3 linked regions of the Homo sapiens genome follow. The protein of the gene in region 1 interacts with the protein of each later gene in a pairwise test. Each region holds a gene or a part of one and is shown on either strand. Other genes may lie near its edges. The genes, in order: CYB5R3, FAXDC2 and TMEM201.

The links.
Region 2: the proteins of CYB5R3 (region 1) and FAXDC2 interact in binary tests that used the Homo sapiens proteins (3 or more experiments, as listed by UniProt).
Region 3: the proteins of CYB5R3 (region 1) and TMEM201 interact in binary tests that used the Homo sapiens proteins (3 or more experiments, as listed by UniProt).

The regions. Positions count from the first base shown.
Region 1 is NC_000022.11:42,632,325-42,635,974, reverse strand, and holds part of CYB5R3 (NADH-cytochrome b5 reductase 3), read left to right. Parts: intron 1-3,650. UniProt on the Homo sapiens protein: Catalyzes the reduction of two molecules of cytochrome b5 using NADH as the electron donor.
Region 2 is NC_000005.10:154,848,421-154,852,170, reverse strand, and holds the start of FAXDC2 (fatty acid hydroxylase domain-containing protein 2), read left to right. Parts: upstream 1-1,567; 5' UTR 1,568-1,688; intron 1,689-3,750. UniProt on the Homo sapiens protein: Promotes megakaryocyte differentiation by enhancing ERK phosphorylation and up-regulating RUNX1 expression.
Region 3 is NC_000001.11:9,602,847-9,606,014, reverse strand, and holds part of TMEM201 (transmembrane protein 201), read right to left. Parts: exon of another isoform or gene 1,066-3,168; intron 1-1,065. UniProt on the Homo sapiens protein: Critical regulator of angiogenesis and endothelial cell (EC) migration. Promotes the migration of endothelial cells, which is essential for angiogenesis.

The sequences.
Region 1 (3,650 bases):
CCAAAGTGTTGGGATTACAGGCATGAGCCGTGGTGCCCGGCCTGACTCCTTTTTTTCAAAGCTCTGATTATGATTTAAAACCATCCTCTCCCTCTTTTGCCTTGCCCCCAGTAAAGGCTGCTTCCATCGGTCACTTGCCCTCTTCAGAGCCCCTCCCTTGCTCTATTTCTGGCCACCCCCAGCAGGCACAGGAGGGGTGTGGCAGGGAAAACTGAGTCACAGCAGAGAACATCATCTGCCAGGGCCCAAGTCTCCACCCTGGGCTTGTGCCTGGTGCCTCTGACTCAGGCTTCACAGGAATCTCAGGCTTCCATGGCACGGAGCTGGCCGTTTCCTGTAACTGTTGGGGCAAGTGTCTGTAATTGTCCCAGGAGCTCACAGAGAAGTTGACAACCAGAGAGAAGCAAAAAAATACAAAATGAAAAGTAAATTATTGGCCAGGCACGGTGGCTCATGCCTGTAATCCCAGCACTTTGGGAGGCCGAGGCCGGTGGATCACCTGAGGTCAGGAGTTCAAGACCAGCCTGGCCGACATGGTGAAACCCCATCTCTACTAACAATACGAAAATTAGGCCAGGCGTGGTGGCTCACACCTGTAATCTCAGCACTTTGGGAGGCCGAGGAGGGCAGATCATGAGGTCAGGAGATCGAGACCATCCTGGCTAACACGGTGAAACTCTGTCTCTACTAAAAATACAAAAAATTGGCCGGGCGTGGCTGGGCTCACACCTGTAATCCCAGCACTTTGGGAGGCTGAGACAGGCGGATCACAAGGTCAGGAGATTGAGACCATCCCGGTAACACGGTGAAACCCTATCTCTACTAAAAATACAAAAAATTAGCCAGGCGTGGTGGCAGGCACCTGTAGTCCCAGCCGCTGGCGAGGCTGAGGCAGGAGAATGACGTGAACCTGGGAGGCGGAGCTTGCAGTGAGCCGAGATTGCGCCACTGCACTCCAGCCTGGGTGACAGCAAGACTCCGTCTCAAAAAAAAAAAAAAAAAATTAGCTGGGCGTGGTGGCAGGCACCTGTAGTCCCAGCTACTCCAGAGGCTGAAGCAGGAGAATGGCGTGAACCTGGGAGGTGGAGCTTGCAGTGAGCCGAGATCGTGTCACTGCACTCCAGCCTGGGCTACAGAGCAAGACGCTGTCTCAATCAATCAATCAATCAATCAATATGAAAATTAGCCGGGCGTGGTGGCAGATGCCTGTAATCCCAGCTACTCCAGAGGCTGAAGCAGGAGAATGGCGTGAACCTGGGAGGTGGAGCTTGCAGTGAGCCGAGATCGTGCCACTGCACTCCAGCCTGGGCTACAGAGCAAGACGCTGTCTCAATCAATCAATCAATCAATCAATATGAAAATTAGCCGGGCGTGGTGGCAGATGCCTGTAATCCCAGCTACTTGAGAGGCTGAGGCAGGAGAATCGCTTGAACCTGGGAGGCAGAGGTTGCAGTGAGCCAAGATCACACCATTGCACTCCAGCCTGGGTGACAAGAGCGAAACTCTGTTTCAAAAAAATAAAAAATAAAAAGCAAAAAAAAGTAAATCACCACCTCCCAGATGAGACCACACTTAACCTTGCGATATGATTTTTTGTTTGTTTGTTTGTTTTTGAGATGGAGTTTTGCTCTCGTTGCCCAGGCTATAGTGCAATGGTGTGATCTCGGCTCACTGCAACCTCTGCCTCCCAGGTTCAAGCGGTTCTCCTGCCTCAGCTTCCCAAGTAGCTAGGATTACAGGTGCCCACCACCACGCCCTGCTAATTTTTTTTTTTTTTGTATTTTTAGTAGAGTCAGGGTTTCAACATGTTGGCCAGGCTGGTCTCGAACTCCTGACCTCAGGTGATCCACCCGACTTGGCCTCTCAAAGTGCTCGAATTACAGGCGTGAGCCACCGTGCCTGGCCCTGTGATATGTTTTATACTTATGTAAGCAGGCACACATGTTTTTTTCTTACCCAAATGAAATAATAACATTTTGAAACCTGTTTTTTAACGGTATTTTCCCTTGTTATTGTTATTGGTGGGTTGTTTTGTTTTTGTTTGTGTTTTTTTAGAACAAGGTCTCGCTCTGTCACCCAGGCTGCTTTCTGCAACCTCAAACTCCTGGGCACAAGCCTTCTGAGTAGCTGGGACCATGTGCATGCACCACTATGCCTGGCTCTGTTACTGTCGTTCCTTTTTGTTGTTGTTGAGATGGACTTTCGCTCTTGTTGCCCAGGCTGGAGTGCAATGGCACAATCTCGACTCACCGCAACCTCCACTTCCCAGGTTCAAGTGATTCTTCTGCCTCAGCCTCCCAGGTAGCTGGGATTATAGGCATGCGACACCATGCCCAGCTAATTTTGTATTTTTAGTAGAGATGGGGTTTCTCCATGTTGGTCAGGCTGGTCTCGAACTTCGACCTCAGGTGATCCGCCCGCCTCGACCTCCCAAAGTGCTGGGATTACGGGCATGAGCCACCACGTCTGACCCTACTGTTTCTTAATTCCAGAAATAATGTATGATTTATATGTGCTCACAGCAAAAACTCTGTAAGGTATGACCTCCACCCCTGCCCCATTGCCGCATCCCAGGGCCCCGTGCAGAGGGCCCAGGTCACAGCTCAGCGTGAGCCTGCCAGACCCTATGTGGGTATCACGTTCATACACGGGTGTGTGGAGGTGCGGGTGTGTGCACACTCAGTTTCTTTTTTTGATAACCTGGTTTTGTAGCCAGCCATACAACATGGATCCTTTTAGTATTTCATCATAGGGATGTTACACAAGGGAGCATGTGGCAGATGTCCTAGGATTGCAGCTTTGCCCCCTCATTGTGCCCATGGTGGCTTTGCGGGGTCCGCAGCGGGCCTGCTCTGGGTGCTCTGTGCTTTGCCCCACCCTGCTGCCCTACTAGAGGTTGGCCAGCACCATAATTGTTCATCTCTTGTCCTCATTTCTATTCTTTTTTTTGAGACAGAGTTTCACTCTTGTTGCCCAGGCTGGAGTGCAATGGTGCGATCTCAGCTCACTGCAACCTTGCCTCCCAGGTTCAAGTGATTCTCCTGCCTCAGCCTCCTGAGTAGCTGGGATTACAGGCATGCGCCACCACGCCTGGCTAACATTGTAGTTTTAGTAGAGACGGGATTTCTCCATGTTGTTCAGACTGGTCTCGAACTTCCGACCTCAGATGATTCGCCCACCTCGGCCTCCCAAAGTGCTGGGATTACAGGCATGAGCCACCACGCCTGGCCATCTCATTTCTATTCTTCCTCCAAATATTTTCTGGTACATGGGTGTCTGACCTTGACCCTTAGGACCAGTTGATAGTCCTGGAATCCACTTCCAGAAGGCCTTGGGGCTCTGTTTGCCCCTAATGCAGAAGCTTCTGGTAGAGGCAGCTTTGAGGCCTGGGCTGCCTGGGAGAGGTTGGTGGGCCCCCTGCACACCTGATCCTGAGTGGCGTTTGCACCGTCTTTCCTGCGATTTGCCTCTGCTCACACGTGTAGGGACGGGTCTCTCCTTGAGGCAGCTGCTCTGTGCTGGAACACTGCTCAGGTCGGAGAGTTCTCGTACTGAGCCGAGATGGGCATCTGTGATGTCCTGCCCTGTTGGAGAGGTCTGTTGTCCCCCTCTAAGTGATGACACCATCCACATGTGGACTTTGCCACGTT
Region 2 (3,750 bases), on another chromosome or scaffold:
GAAACCTCATCTCTACTAAAAAAAAAAAATACAAAAATTAGCCGGGCCTGGCAGCGCACACCTGTAGTCCCAGCTACTCGGGAGGCTGAGGCAGAAGAATCGCTTGAACCCAGGAGGCGGAGGTTGCAGTTAGCTGTGATCATGCCATTGCACTCCAGCCTGGGTGACAGAGCAAGACTCCATCTCAAAAAATAAAAAAAAGAAATCCTCCTGCCTCAGCCTTCCAAAGATTGCTGAGATTACAGGCATGAGCCACTGCACCCGGCATTTTTTATTTTGTTTTGTTTTTTAGAGACAGGGTCCCACTCTGTCACTCAGGTTGGAGTGCAGGGCACAATCATAGCTCACTGCAGCCTCCAACTCCTGGGCTCAAGCCATCCTCCCACCTCAGCCTCCCCAGTAGCTGGGATAACAGACATGTGCCAGTAAGCTCTACTAATTTTTTGTATATGTAGTAGAAATGGGGTTTTGCTACATTGCCCAGGCTGGTCTTGAACTCCTGGCCTCAAGTGATCCTCCCGTCTTGGTCTTCCAAAGTGCTGAGATTATACATGTGAGCCGCCGTGCCCAGCCAAGTTTCTGAGTTTTGTTTATTTTAGAAAGGAGTCTTCCTGTGCTGCCCAGGCTGGTCTCAAATACCTGGGCTCAAGTGATCCTCCAACCTCAGCCTCCCAAATAGTTGGGACTACAGGTGAGCACCACCATGCCTAGCCAATCTCCATGTTTGATTGTTAAGTGGAAAAAGCAAGGTGCACAACAAACATACTATGGTGCTGTTGCTAAAGGAGAAGCACAAGGCCTACACATGTTTCTATTTACAGAGGTAAGCTCTGGAAGGATATACAAAAATCTGGTCACAGAGGTTGTCTCTTGGGAGGAAAAAAAGGGGACTGAGGAGAAATTAAAAAAAGACTTTTCATTGTACATTCTTTTGACCCTATTGTATTTTATATCATTTGCACATTTGCTTATTTAAAAAGTTTTCAGAAATTTAAAAGCAGCTCTTTTTCCAAAGTGCTCCTCACTTCATGTCATGGGTCCTGTATCCTAAGTTCCCCTATTTCAATCACAGTGCAAATTTACCCTCCACAGGCATGCCTTTCCTGCATCTAGACTCACTAGAAATAGCTGATGCATCTCTCCTCCCTTGCCTGCCCTCCACAGGAAAAGAAGCAATGAAAAAAAAGAAAATGAGATCCTCTGGTCTCTGTCACCTTTTTATCAACTTGTACTACCTGCCATTATCTGACACCCACATCTTTTCTTGAATCTGCCTCCTCCTATGGGACAGCGACATTTTCTTAAGTTGCAGATGATGGAGAAAATTTTTTAAAAGAAAAAAAGGGGGCAGGGGGAGGGAAGCCCAGAGTTTGGCCAAATGCACGTTTTTCAAGTTCCTGCTTGAGCTTAGATTCCCTTTCCGCTTTAAGGACATGCCCTCTGGAAAGAAGGGTGTTTTGTTTCCAGCCCACACAGACCCAAACTTTTTTCATCACGTGCCTGGTCCGAGCCAGTACGCAGCTCTGTAATGAGATCACCATGGCCAGCCTCCCACCCGAGCAAAAACAAGGTTAGCCTGCAGCAGAGCCGCAGCAGCAACAGCCACCAAAGCGGGGGCTGAAAGGGAAGAGAACTTAGATTTGACCTGTGCAAGGACCTCAGCAGCTTGGACACAGCCCACTGCAGAGGTAAGTGGGAACTACGGGGGAGGGGTGGTGTTTGCAAAGGTCAGGACATGTCCAGGTTCACTTAAAGTAAGGGCAAAACAACACTCTTCCCACCTCTGCCACCACCCTGTCCTCTCTACTTATGGCAGGGTTAGATTTGCCTCTAAACAGGGTTAGATGGCAGGGTTAGAATTTGTCCTAGGACATTGCTGTAGTGCAGTCGCCTCCTTGTCTCTTACTAATGTCTGTATCCTCTGCCTGTGTTTGTACCATCTACCTCCTCAGTAGTCTAATTTTTCTAGCAATTGACAGGTGATTGTAATGGACAAGTAATTGTTTGACTTTAAAACCATTTGTAAAGGAGCAACTCCTAATTCAGAACTCAAATGAGAGGCAGAACAAACTGGAAGAGACTGTTGGGAAGCAACTGCTGCCTAATTGCTTCTCATCTCTACTCTGCCATCACCAGGAAGGTATGGGGCAAAATACAACAGTTTTAAAGTCTCTGGATAGATGTGTGGGCTATGAGCTAGACAAGTAGGTTGAAACTGTTTTGATGCAACATACTTGGATTTACCAACAGTGGCTCCAGTTGTGAAATCGTTAGTGGCTTGATAGTACCTATGGAAACACTCCACGAAGGTTATTGAGTAAAGGGCATACAGTAAAGTGTGTAGGTGGAGATGAACAATAGAACAGTGGCTTTCAGGACCTTCTGGGGCTTAAGGCAAGCAAGACAAGATGCTGATTTGTGGGTTGCTTCAGTTTCATGTGCAATTCCAATTAAATTTCTTTGAGTGGGATATACAGATTCAATTCAATTTGCTAAAACACAGATGCACTGAGCATCAGCTTCTAACTTTAGTTACGAAAGTAATTAGCACAAGGGAATGGTGCTAAAATGTTCCATAGCAAATGTTGAACACTTTTTGAGGGCAAAAAGCAATGCTTTTGATTCGTGTATCTCTTATTTATTCGGCAAATCTTTCTTGAGTATCTTCTACATGCCAGGCTTGGGCTTGATTCTGTGGATCTCGTGGTAAACAAGACAGGCAGATTCTCGGCCTCATGGACATGCAATCAAGCAGAACAGTAAGCTCAAAGGGTGCAAGTACCATGCAGCAAAAGGAGTGAAGAGAGTATTACTAAAACTGGCCCATGGGAATCATTTTTAACCTTTCCTTTCATGCATTTCATCTTCTGTTTTTGTTTTTTTTGTTTTTTGAGATGGAATCTCGTTCTGTCACCCAGGCTGGAGTACAGTGGCGCGATTTCAGCTCACTGCAACCTCCACCTCCTGGGTTCAAGAGATTCTCCTGCCTCAGCCCCCCAAGTAGCTGGGATTACAGGTGCCCGCCACCACACCCAGCTAATTTTCGTATTTTTAGTAGAGATGGGGTTTCACCATGTTGGCCAGGCTGGTCTCCAACTCCTGACCTCAGGTGATCTACCCACCTCGGCCTCCCAAAGTTATGAGATTACAGGCATAAGCCAACGTGCCCAGCCGCATTTCATCTTTGTTTTTTTTTGTTTTTTTGAGACAGACTCTTGCTCTGGCGCCCAGGCTGGAGTGCAGTGGCATGATCTTGGCTCACTGCAACCTCCGCCTCCCAGGTTCAAGCGATTCTCCTGTCTCAGCCTCCAGAGCAGCTGGGATTACAGGCGTGCACCACCACACCCGGCTAATTTTTATATTTTTAGTAGAGACGGAGTTTCGCCATGTTGGCCAGGCTGGTCTCAAACTCCTGACCTCAGGTGATCTGCCCACCTCGGCCTCCCAAAGTGCTGGGATTACAGATGCGAGCCACCGCTCCTGGCCGCATTTCATCTTCTTAAATGAATATCGGCCACTCTATCTTCTATATAAGCCTCAGATTAGTACAGATGTTGAGTCATAGCAGCTCCTCAAAACCCTCTTCACCAGAGGCTTTAAACTGTGTAATTACATTACAGGTCAGTCTCCTCAGCCCTGGAGGTCGACTGCTCAGCTTTTTCCTAGCATACAGTCTGAGAGCAGAGGCTGAAGTAAGGGGAGTTCTAATCTTTGGGTCAGTTGCCCTCTCCCTGTGTCATTTCTTATGAA
Region 3 (3,168 bases), on another chromosome or scaffold:
GGGCTCTGCGCTAGGCTTCCTGTGCCCACCCTGCCCGGCAGCACAGACATAGCCAAGAGTCAGCCAAGGGTGACCAGGTCCCCCAGTGACCTGAGAGTACCGTTGGGGGATGTGTGAAAGGAGGGTCCTAGTGGGCTGTGGGTATGAGGTGGTCAGCTGGGCCACGCAGCTCCTGGCCCCAAAGGGTGGGCTCTAGCAGGAGTGGCTGGGTCTTGCCAGTGCATCCCCACTCCTCCCAGCTCCTGCTCACACCACCCGGGGCTGCCTCAGTGCTTAAAGGCTGAATCTCCTGGCCACCTGGCACAGGGGCTGTTGTTCCCAGTTTGGTGCCACTGAAGATGGTGCTGTGGGGAGTTCCTTCGCAGTTTGACTCCCTCACTGTGATATGTGGGAACATCACTCAACCAGCAAGACCTCGTAAATCGCTCACAGGGCTGGGCATGAGGGGCTGGGCTCTGTACAGGCGCCCCAGCGAGCCTCCGCCAGCTAAAGGAGCCCAATCTGTTGGACCCTGGAGAACTCCAAAGGTGCTAACATTTCCTTTGGCGAGAGACCCCCCCCGACTGCCCTGTGCCCTCAAACCACGTCTCAGAGAGGGACTAAGAGACCAGGATCAGGCCTGGATGCTGGCTCTGGGGAGTGTCAGAGAGGGACTAAGAGGCCAGGATCAGGCCTGGATGCTGGCTCTGGGGAGTGTCAGAGAGGGACTAAGTGACCAGGATCAGGCCTGGATGCTGGCTCTGGGGAGTGCCGGAGCGGATACGCTCATCTGACACCAAGGGGAGATGTCTGGTCTTCTCCGACCCAATCCCAGCCCACATCAGGAGTGGAAGGAGAGAGACCACGTTTTAAGCAACAGTTTATTGAGACGGAAAAAATATGATCCAGCAAAGGCGAGGAGGCGAGCCGGGCCCCGAGCCAGCTGGTGTCATTGTCACTGGCTCCCAAACCTGACTCCTGTGGACGTGTCTGTACCCCAAACACAGCTGCCCACCCCAGCCCTGGCACAGAGCCCTTCTGAAAGAAAGAAAAAAGAAGAAAGACGCGGCACCTGACGCCAGCGGGTAAAAGCAGGGCCCCAGAGGCATTTATTGAAAACACAGCATCCAAAACACGACATCTAGGCCAGGCGCGATGGTTACAGTGATGAGAGGGTCACTAGACAATTATCCACAATTCTACGACATGAGACAGAGACTCAGCAACAGTCACAGACAGAAGGGTCATGTGTTCCTTCCTGGGCAGGGCTGAATGTGGCAGGTGCGGCGTGGAGGCTGCGTCCTGGCGGTTTGCTCCCAGGCAAGGGGTACGGGGGGCCGGCTTGGCCTGGGTGGGGACCTCAAGTCTGAGGGTGAGGATGGCTGAATCTACCTCGCTTATGTCTCAGGGACGGTCACCCATACCTAGGATGACCCCAGCCAGACCCTAGAAGGTCTGATGGCCATCCCAAGTCCCCCGCGAGGAGAAGAGTTCCCTGGCAGGGGTGACACATTCCCGGTCAACAAGCCACAACACAGTGGTGCCTGCACTCTCTCAGCTGTTGCCACAACACTTGGTGCTGGAATTTTCTCCACGTAGTGAAACTTTTAAGGGACACATGAATAATTTAAAAAGTCACACAAAACTCTACGAAAGGCAGGAATCCTCACTCTGCTGAGAGCTACCTCCTGAGATGTCGCTTCCGGACCCCGGCAGAGGGCAGGAGCGACATCAGCTCGGCAGGAGGATCCTGGCCAGCGCGAGGGCTGGCTCTGGTTATTATAAATAATCTAATTTAAATACGCACATACACACAGATGTCCTGCTTCTACCCAACGCCAAGAAAAGCAGACATTAGCATCACACTGTCAACACTTCCTCGAGAACCGAAGATTCGAGACGCAAGCAACAGCATGGCCAGCCGACAGGACGCTTTCCCGTCCTGGCTCCACCACGTCCTTCTCTCAGATGGGCTCTTTGTGGGCTGGGGGGTGGCGTGAGTGCACAGGCAGGCGGTTCCCTGCCCCTCAGGTAGACACCATGGGGGGCCGCTTTGGCTCACCCGCCCCAACTCCTCACTGCAGAACCAGTGGGAAGCGTGGCCCCGACCACATCTTTTCAGAGGGGTTTTCTCACCTCACGCTCCACACAGAACAACAAGCTGAGCCCAGTAACGCTGGGGCCTTGTCTGAAGCCACGCAGGTCATCGGGCACAGAGGCCACAGAAGCCCCCGAGGGTCTCCCGATGCACCTGGGTTCCTCACTTGTGAAGCTGGGTGGGATGTGAGCTGCTACCCAATCACTGGGGTGGGGCAGCCTCTAGGACCCCCAGGCGTGGCAGATTCACAGCAGTGAGGCCTGGCACCTGCCCCCCCAACCCATCCCGGCAGACCCAGGTGACGGGTGTAACCCTCATGCACCTGTGATCTGCTCTTGCCTCCCCCGGGGTTCCAACGCACAGGAGAGAGGAGCTGGCACACCCTGGCCACATCTGGAAGGTGAACTCGTGCTCAGAGTGGCGAGTGGCAGGACATGTGGGCCCTGAGGGAGTGGGCAGCCAGAGGGAACATGCCCGGTGAGGGACGGCCTCGGGCCACTCTCGACTGGGACCCCTGGATAAAGCCCCCAGGCCGGGAACTTCCTCTGCACGTGGCAGCCCCTCGACTTCCAGAGTGTGTCCTCATGAGCCACCTCATGTGATCCCCACACCCACTGAGCTGGCACCCAAGGGCTATGGAGAGGGGTCCACCTCATTTCATAGATGGCAAACTGAGGCTGAGAACAGCAGGGGCCTGGCCAGGCCCTGCTACTGAGGAGCAGGTCTGTGGGCTGCCCCCTCACCTGAGTCGGAGGACAGAGTGGCGCTGGGCCATGGTGAGCAGGCACCTGCAGAGGCTCGTGACAGGTCAGGGAGGGAAAGGATGACAACGACCTGATGTCACTGAAGGCCTGCATACCCTGGGCCCCTTACCCTTGGAAAAGCTCAGATTCCCCAAGGTCAGCACAGGCTCCTACTGCCTGTCTCAGGTGGGGTCTCGCTCCCCAAACTCATGGCGAAGGCCAGGCTGGGCCCAAGAACTGCACTCTCCATTTCCGGGGACTCGGGAGGGTCTTGGAGCAGGAGGCCAAGCAGCAGCCAGAGCTGCAGCTCGGCCTCCTTCACGGCTCCACCACCTCCTGCAGGGCCGG